2 linked regions of the Homo sapiens genome follow. The protein of the gene in region 1 interacts with the protein of each later gene in a biochemical or structural test. Each region holds a gene or a part of one and is shown on either strand. Other genes may lie near its edges.

Region 1 (3,918 bases):
ACTTTGGGAAGCTGACGCGAGAAGACCGTTTTTGAGGCCACGGTGTACAAGATCAGCTTGGGCAACAAAGAGACCTCATCTCTACCTTTAAAAAAAGAAAATTGGCCAGGCATGGTGGCTCAACAGTCCCAGCTACTCTAGAGGCTGAAGCAGGATGATCGCTTGAGTGTAAGAGTTTGAGGCTGCAGTGAGCTATGATTGACCTCGAGCCACTGCACTCCAGCCTGAGCAACAGAGAGAGTCTGTGCAAAAAAGAAAAGAAAAGATTTGTTCTTTGAAGGCCTGATCAAATAACCTTCAAAATATCTGGGCATATCTTGTGAGAAGTTTTATAAAGTCAATTTTAGAGCTACTGGCTTTTTCAAACTTTTTATTTCTTTTAAAGTCAATTTTGGTCATTAATGTTTCCTTAAAAATTAACTATACCACCTAGACTTTTAAATGTATTTACACTAAGTTTGTTCATATAATGTTCTTCTATTTAAATATTTTCCATACCTGGCCAGGCATGGTGGCTCACACCTGTAATCCAAGCACATTGGGATCACTTGAGCCCAGGAGTTTGAGACCATCCTGGGCAACATAGTGAAACTCTGTCTTTACAAAAAAATACCAAAGTTGGCCGGGCATGGTGGTGCACGCCTGTAGTCCCAGCTACTCAGGAGGCTGAGACAGGAAGATTGCATTGAGCCCAGGAGGTTGAGGCTGCAGCAAGCTGTGATCACAGCACTGCACTACAACCTAGGCAACAGACTGAGACTGTCTTAAAAAAAAAAAAAAAGAAAAGAAAAAAAAAATCTTCCATAACTAATGCCCTTTTTTGTCACTGTATTATACTTGTGCCTTTTCTTTTCTTATCTGATGAATTACAGATTTTTGCCACGGACTTGCCTATTTTAATTAGAGAAGGCTTGCCAAAGGAAGATCTTATGTTGACGTTTTCAAAAAGATAACAGAACTCAGTCACTGAAAACTGAATGTTATAATTCTAGACTCCATCCCATTCCCCCAGTCTTTACCTTCTTCATACACCAACTTTGCCTTCTGTCCAGGGGAAGTTGCTCCCTTTGTCTTCTCTGATGCTGTTACCTGGAAGAAGATAAAGTACTGTTCTGAAGTAGAGTGTAAACATATCCCAAGTATCACGACCACCAGCATACCCAACCTTCCCCACTGCTTGCTGCTAACTCACCCTCCACCACCATAATGGAGGACCTTCATACAATACAGAGCAAAAAAGTCCTTCAAATACAAGAGGGAAAGAATTACTCTGTAAAGCTGAAAAACTCTGAGGTGATTAGAATATCTTTCTGTGCCAAAATTTTAACTGTATAAATATCCTATAACTTACTAACTGTATAACAACTGAAACACAATGGTGAGAAAAAGATTTGAGTAAAAGTTGAAACAGACACAACTAAACTTTCTTACTGTCAAACTGATAAGCTTTCCAAGTTAAAGACTAGATCCTGATTTACCAATTTCTTACTGAAACAGGGAGCTCTCAGCCAGGCGTGGTGGGTCACGCCTGTAATTCCAGCACTTTGGGAGGTCAAGGTGGTAGGATCCCTTGAGCCTAGGAGTTCAAAACCAGCCTAGGCAATGCCATCTCTACGAAAATTTAAAAATTAGCCAGGCATGGTGGTGCATCCGTGTAGTCCCAGCTACTTGGGAGGCACTTGAGCGAGGCTGCAGTGAGCTATGATCATGCTACCGCAGTGCAGCCTGAGCGACAGAGCAAGACCCTGTCTCAAAATGATCCTTATTCCTCTCTCCATTCCTACCATGTCCAAAAGTTTTAGCCCAGAACAATATGATTTACTCACTTGTGTAATTAGAAGAATAAGCTTTCCATGAAGGTGTGAAAGTTTCTGAAAAGTTTTGACTCTGCTTTCCATTAACTGGTAGAGTGTCCCCAGCTGGGGTACCAGGTCAGGCAACTAGAGAAAAAAATGATCATTTGGCACTATTAACGTATTAGAGATGACGAACACGCAAATCATGCTCAGCTATGCCTCAGTATTTAGCCACTGCACCACACACATCTGCTTACAAGTACTCCCAGTGGCAGTGGCTACCTGCAACATAGCCTAACAACATCACGAATTTTCACAGAAGACCCTCAATGTCCTAGGAGGAAAAAATAATAGGCTTATAAAAAAAATGATATAAGGGCAAGAGAGTGAAACTGCAAGGTGGCACTTTTCTGTATTGATCAAACTATTTCAGATAAGGCCAATATCCCATATAAAGTAGACAGGAAATTAAAAATGCCTCTACCACGTATCTCCAGGCTAAAGAGGCTTTCCTCTGAATCTTATCCTCTGATGCTAGCATATTATCTACCCTTACTGTAAGGCCCCAAAGAGGCAGAGAAGCCTTTTCCCAGCTCCCAGAGACCAGTAGAACAAAGTACAAAGTTGACCTTTTGCATTTTAAATATACTTCCTGTTAATGAGTCCTCTGAAACATATTTAAAAAATGAAAGTAGGACATTCTCTTTTTTGCTCCCATGTTGCTCTCATCAGAGTCTTTTGTATTGAGAATATAGCTGTTATATTTGGAACACAACACGACTGATAAAGGTCTGGCTCCTCCAGGTTCACTGAGGAATAAAACAATGGTAATTTGCCTTTCTCATAAAATCTTAAAGTCCCCTTGATCATTTTTAACAATATGAAAGGAAACCATGATGGCCATAATTTTTCTATCCTAGATCAACTATAAAAAGCAACTGGAAAAATTTAAATGCCTCTTTTTAAAGGAAGCCATTTGGAAGTCCAGAACAAGCCTCTTCCTGTCCCACTGCCTTCAAATACCTGCCTCTGGTTAATTTTCCTCCCATCTCTGGGCTCTAAGAACAACGCTGGCAGCTGGGCGCGGTGGCTCATGCCTGTAATCCCAGCACTTTGGGAGGCTGAGGCGGGCAGATCACCTGAGGTCAGGGGTTCAAGACCAGCCTGACCAACATGGAGAAACCCCATCTCTACTAAAAACACAAAAATTAGCCAGGCATGGTGGCATGTGCCTGTAATCCCAGCTACTCGGGAGGCTGAGGAAGGAGAATCATTTGAACTCATAAGGCGGAGGTTGCGGTGAGCCAAGATCGTGCCATTGCACTCCAGCCTAGGCAACAAGAGCAAAACTCCGTCTCAAGAAAAAAAAAAAGAAAAAGAACAACGCTGGCTTCCCCACCTCACCCCCTACCCCCGTGATATTCTGATATTCTTTTATCTGTCCCTGTAGCACTACAGAAAAACGGACTCCATTCTTTTTTTTTTTTTTTTTTGAGACGGAGTCTCGCTCTGTCGCCCAGGCTGGAGTGCAGTGCCATGAACTATGCTCACTGCAACCTCTGCCCCCCCGGGTTCACGCCATTCTCCTGCCTCCCTCAGCCTCCCGAGTAGCTGGGACTACAGGCACCTGCCATCACGCTCGGCTAATTTTTTGTATTTTTAGTAGAGACGGGGTTTCACCGTGTTAGAAAGGATGGTCTTGATCTCCTGAACTCATGATCCACCCGCCTCAGCCTCCCAAAGTGCAGGGATTACAGGTGTGAGCCACCGTGCCCAGACTCCACTCCTTACCTCTGATTAGCCTTTACCTGCACTCCTATTTCTAATACTTTAGTAAAAAAGTGTTTCATTCAAATGTTAACTTTAAACAGCAGACAGACACAAAAATTAGTAAAGCAAGGTTTAAGGTCATTGCATTCCAATTTATCACCTCCCTTTTGTGTCCCTGTTCAGACTATGAGCTCCAAGAAGATGGGGACCAGAGTGTTTGGTACATTGCTGAATCCCCATGCCTGGCATAGCCCTTGGCTTACAGAAGGCACTTAAAAATATCAGCAAAGGAAGGAAGAAATGAAGGAAAAGAGCGAGGAAAACCATGGTTTCCTTGATAACTGCTACGGGC
Region 2 (3,918 bases), on another chromosome or scaffold:
GTCCAGGCCAGGCTGCCTGGTAAAATCCTGGATGCACCACTTCCTGGGTCATTGGTAATAACAGTTCCTACCTCACAGAACTGTTATGACCATTAAATAATATTTGTGAAGTGTACATAAATTCCAGCAAAATAAATGTATAACTGAAAGAGTCCATTTTAAGAAAATTATAATAAAATCATTTTTTAAAAGAAATTCTATATAGCAGTGGAAGTGAATAATGTAGATCTGCAGCAAAATATCAAGCAAAAAAGTCTAATATGGAAAGACAGAAAAAGGGATGGAAGGGGAGACTGAAATCTTGACTGGGGAACAGGAGTTGGAACCCAACTCACAGTTCCCACCTCTCCACTCCTATGTGGCACCTCACAAGAGGGATCACAGTTGAAATCACTGATCTAGTCCAACCCTCTCATTTTCAAGGTCTAGAGACCTTAAGGGATTGCCCGAGGTCACAATTAGCTAGTGACACACAGTGGAGATCAGCACACAGCTTTCTATTCTCCCTGTTCAACATGATATTTTTTCCATTTGTCAGAATAACAGCAAGAAAAGTAGACACATCTGACATTATCAACTTTTTTCTTTTTTTAATTAAAGATGGAGTCTTAGAGTCTTGCTATGTTGCCCAGGCTGGTCTCAAACTCCTGGACTCAAGCTATCCGCCTGCCTCAGCCTCCCAAAGTGCTAGGATTACAGGCGTGAGCAACCACATCCCGCCTCAACTTATTTTTAAATCAAATAGGTACTGGGGAAAAGAATATAAAACAGAGTAATTTCTAGCCAGATTTTAGAATTAAGAAAAAAAAAAAAAGGAGGTACACACAGCAATATATATGTTGTCAAGTATACATACTACCTATACATTCTTCTAATATGAACACATTTTTACTTTATTTACAAATGAAAAAAGCCAATTTACTTCTTCCACTGTAATTATGAAAATGCAATATGTGCAAAATGAGAAAAACATCTCAGTCCCAACTTGTTGAAAAATGTACCAAGGCCCCTTTTGAGGCCACATTATCTCCTTTCTCTAGTACTAGCAGCTATTTGCTGGGTAGTGGCATTTCAATCAAGAGAGTCACAGAAAAAGAGACAAGCCTACTAGATCTCAAATAACTGATTTTCAAAAGCTGCTGCAGATCTCTTAGGTAGGAGTAAAAGGAGTATGAGCTAAATTTCTGGGGTTAAATAAGATGGCACAGGGCTAAATACATAAGAGCTAAATTTCTGGGGTTAAATAAGATGGCACAGGGCTAAATTTCTGGGGTTAAATAAGATGGCACAGGGCTAAATAAATAAGATGGCACAGGGCTAAATACACAGAGCTCTCGAGTTCTGTGATTTCAGATCTGCCACTTACCACTTTGCCTTGAAAAATAAGTTAAAACTTTTATTTCATTGCTGTAAAGTAGGGAAAAAGCTAACTACCTTGTAGCATCATCTAGGGCATTAGAGTTCATATGTAACAGCACAGTGCCTGGCTCACATTAGGTACACAATAAATGATAACTGCTTGCCAGTCCTACCTATCAACTGTTTGAACAAAGACTTAGATATGCAATTCAAATGCACACTGATAAATTACAAAGAGCAACTGATTTTAAACAAACGTGATTCAAAACCAACAATATTGGTGAAAGCTATTTTTAAGAAGTACCTGCTGACACCAGAAGACCTCCAGAGGGGAAAAGTAGGACACTCTCCACTGGCTGCCCATGCTCAACGGAGAGAACACTCTCACTCGTTCGTGCATCAAACATCTTCACAGTATGATCATATGATCCTAAAATGTCAATTTTTGAATTTTTAGTTTGACTGTTTAAAACAACAAAAACTGTGTGTATCCAGATATAAATTTTAAAAGGAAAAAAAGCTTAGATGGAGTTTTAAAAAGACATATATGTATATTCATGAAGACACAGGACCTCCAAACCATCTACTACTGATCGTGTCTGAAGAAGCACTACATAATACTATACAGAATCTAACTTGCTCTGATCTTAAAATATTTCTTTCTTTGGACTACTGTCACTACTGAATCATCTGGAAATCTTTGTAAAGGCACCCACAAAGGCTAAACTGCACTCTTTGTTTCTTGGCTGCTTGAGGCAGGGTACTATACATTACAGTTCTGAGAGTCTATTATGTTTTCAAGACAGCCTGATTTTTCCAAACACATTTGGAAGACATGAACAATCAACAAAAGAAGAATAAGAAAATAAAAAACAATTGGAAGCCAGGCATGGTGGCTCACACTTGTAATCCCAGTCCTCCGGGAGGAAATTGAGGTAGGTGGATCACTTGAGCCCAGGAGTTCGAGACCAGCCTGGGCAACATGGCAAAACCGTCTCTACAAAAAAATACACAAAGTAGCTGGACGTGGTGGTGGGCACCTGTAGTCCCAGCTACTTGGGAGGCTTATGTGGGAGGATCACTTGAGCCCAGGAGGTAGCAGATGCAGTGAGCTATGGTCACATCACTGCACTCCAGCCTGGGCAACAGAGTGAGACCCTGTCTGAAAATAAATGCAAACATACATACATAAAAATTAATTTAAAAACTGAAGAATTAATCAGAAACATATTCCTTTATAAAAAAAATTTAAACCCCTCCATCCCAAAAGAGTCCCATAGCAACATTAAAGTACATCCCCGTGAGATTATTTGCTTCAGGAGGGAATAGAGTTCACCAACCTGTTATAAAGAGATCCGGATTAAGTTTGCTAGCACATCCACACCTCACATAATCAGAGTGTTCTTTAAATGTCAAAATTTCTTTGGAGTTTGGAATATCCCATAATTTAACTGTATAATCATCAGCCCCAGAGACCACGTGATATTTGTCAGCTGTAAAATCTACTGTATGAACTGCTCTGAAAGATTGAAGGTCAGTATATTAAAAAGCAAGAAAATTATTTTTCTGATACCTTCTAACATAAAATGCTCCTTTTTCTCAGATTAAAAAAAAAGCAGCTGAGTTTCAGGGAGTCTTCATAGGGGGAAATCATGAAAGAAAGAGAAAACTTACAAGTGTTTGCCCCCAAACCAATTAAGAAGTGTAAATACTCCTATATTGTAAAGTTAAAAAAAATTAAAGGATAGCCTTAAAATTATATTTTCTAGTATATAAACAATTCCACTTAGCTGCTGAATATGGAAGCAAAGGCACTTTAATTTTTAAAATTTCAAAAAGTTCTTTAAAAAACTCTAAAGAGATTTACCACTAAATAGAATCATGTTACATAAATTTCTGTTAAATTTTAACAAATTTCAGCACGGACATTGGCAATCCTGAAAACAAAGTTATAATATAAAATTGTGATGGCCACTTAATTTATTAAGGGGCAAAACACTATAAATTCAAGAAGAAAATCCACCTTCCTACTTGACTTCAACATAAGAGCCTCTAAGACAGTACAGGCCTATAGAGCTGTCATTACCAGCTGTAAGGTTGTCTTCAGGTCAGTAATTCATAATCTCAGCTGGGCCACAGACCCCACTAAAGTTAACCAAAAGCTACAGAGTAGCTCCCTAGATAAACGTGTATTTCCTAAAATATCACATACAATTCTAGGGAATTCATAAGCCCCATGAAACTGGACCACGGAACCCAAGTTAAGCACTCTTAGAACAATCAGGAAATATAGTACCTATAGGCAAATAATCTCCATAAAACTGATCTCTATCTTTTTAACCAAAGTCCAGAGAAAAAAAGAGCTTACAACAAAATAAAACCAGAACACACAGAAACCAACTGTCTCTTACTTTGTATGGCCTTCAAACTGCCTGAGGGGAGCCCTCCCACTTATATCAAAAAGTTGAACTCCACCATCTTCACTGCCAGCCACAAGCAATCTACCATCTTGTCGAAAAGTAGCACAGTATGCTGTGTCTTTAAATCGAGAAAAGGTTT

The links.
Region 2: the proteins of WDR43 (region 1) and UTP15 form a complex in vitro, tested with the Homo sapiens proteins (one study listed by IntAct).

Annotation. Positions count from the first base shown.
Region 1 is NC_000002.12:28,939,483-28,943,400, reverse strand, and holds part of WDR43 (WD repeat-containing protein 43), read right to left. Parts: intron 1,941-3,918; coding exon 1,827-1,940; intron 1,090-1,826; coding exon 1,020-1,089; intron 1-1,019. UniProt on the Homo sapiens protein: Ribosome biogenesis factor that coordinates hyperactive transcription and ribogenesis. Part of the small subunit (SSU) processome, first precursor of the small eukaryotic ribosomal subunit.
Region 2 is NC_000005.10:73,568,457-73,572,374, reverse strand, and holds part of UTP15 (U3 small nucleolar RNA-associated protein 15 homolog), read right to left. Parts: coding exon 3,771-3,918; intron 2,879-3,770; coding exon 2,700-2,878; intron 1,790-2,699; coding exon 1,664-1,789; intron 1-1,663. UniProt on the Homo sapiens protein: Ribosome biogenesis factor. Involved in nucleolar processing of pre-18S ribosomal RNA. Required for optimal pre-ribosomal RNA transcription by RNA polymerase I.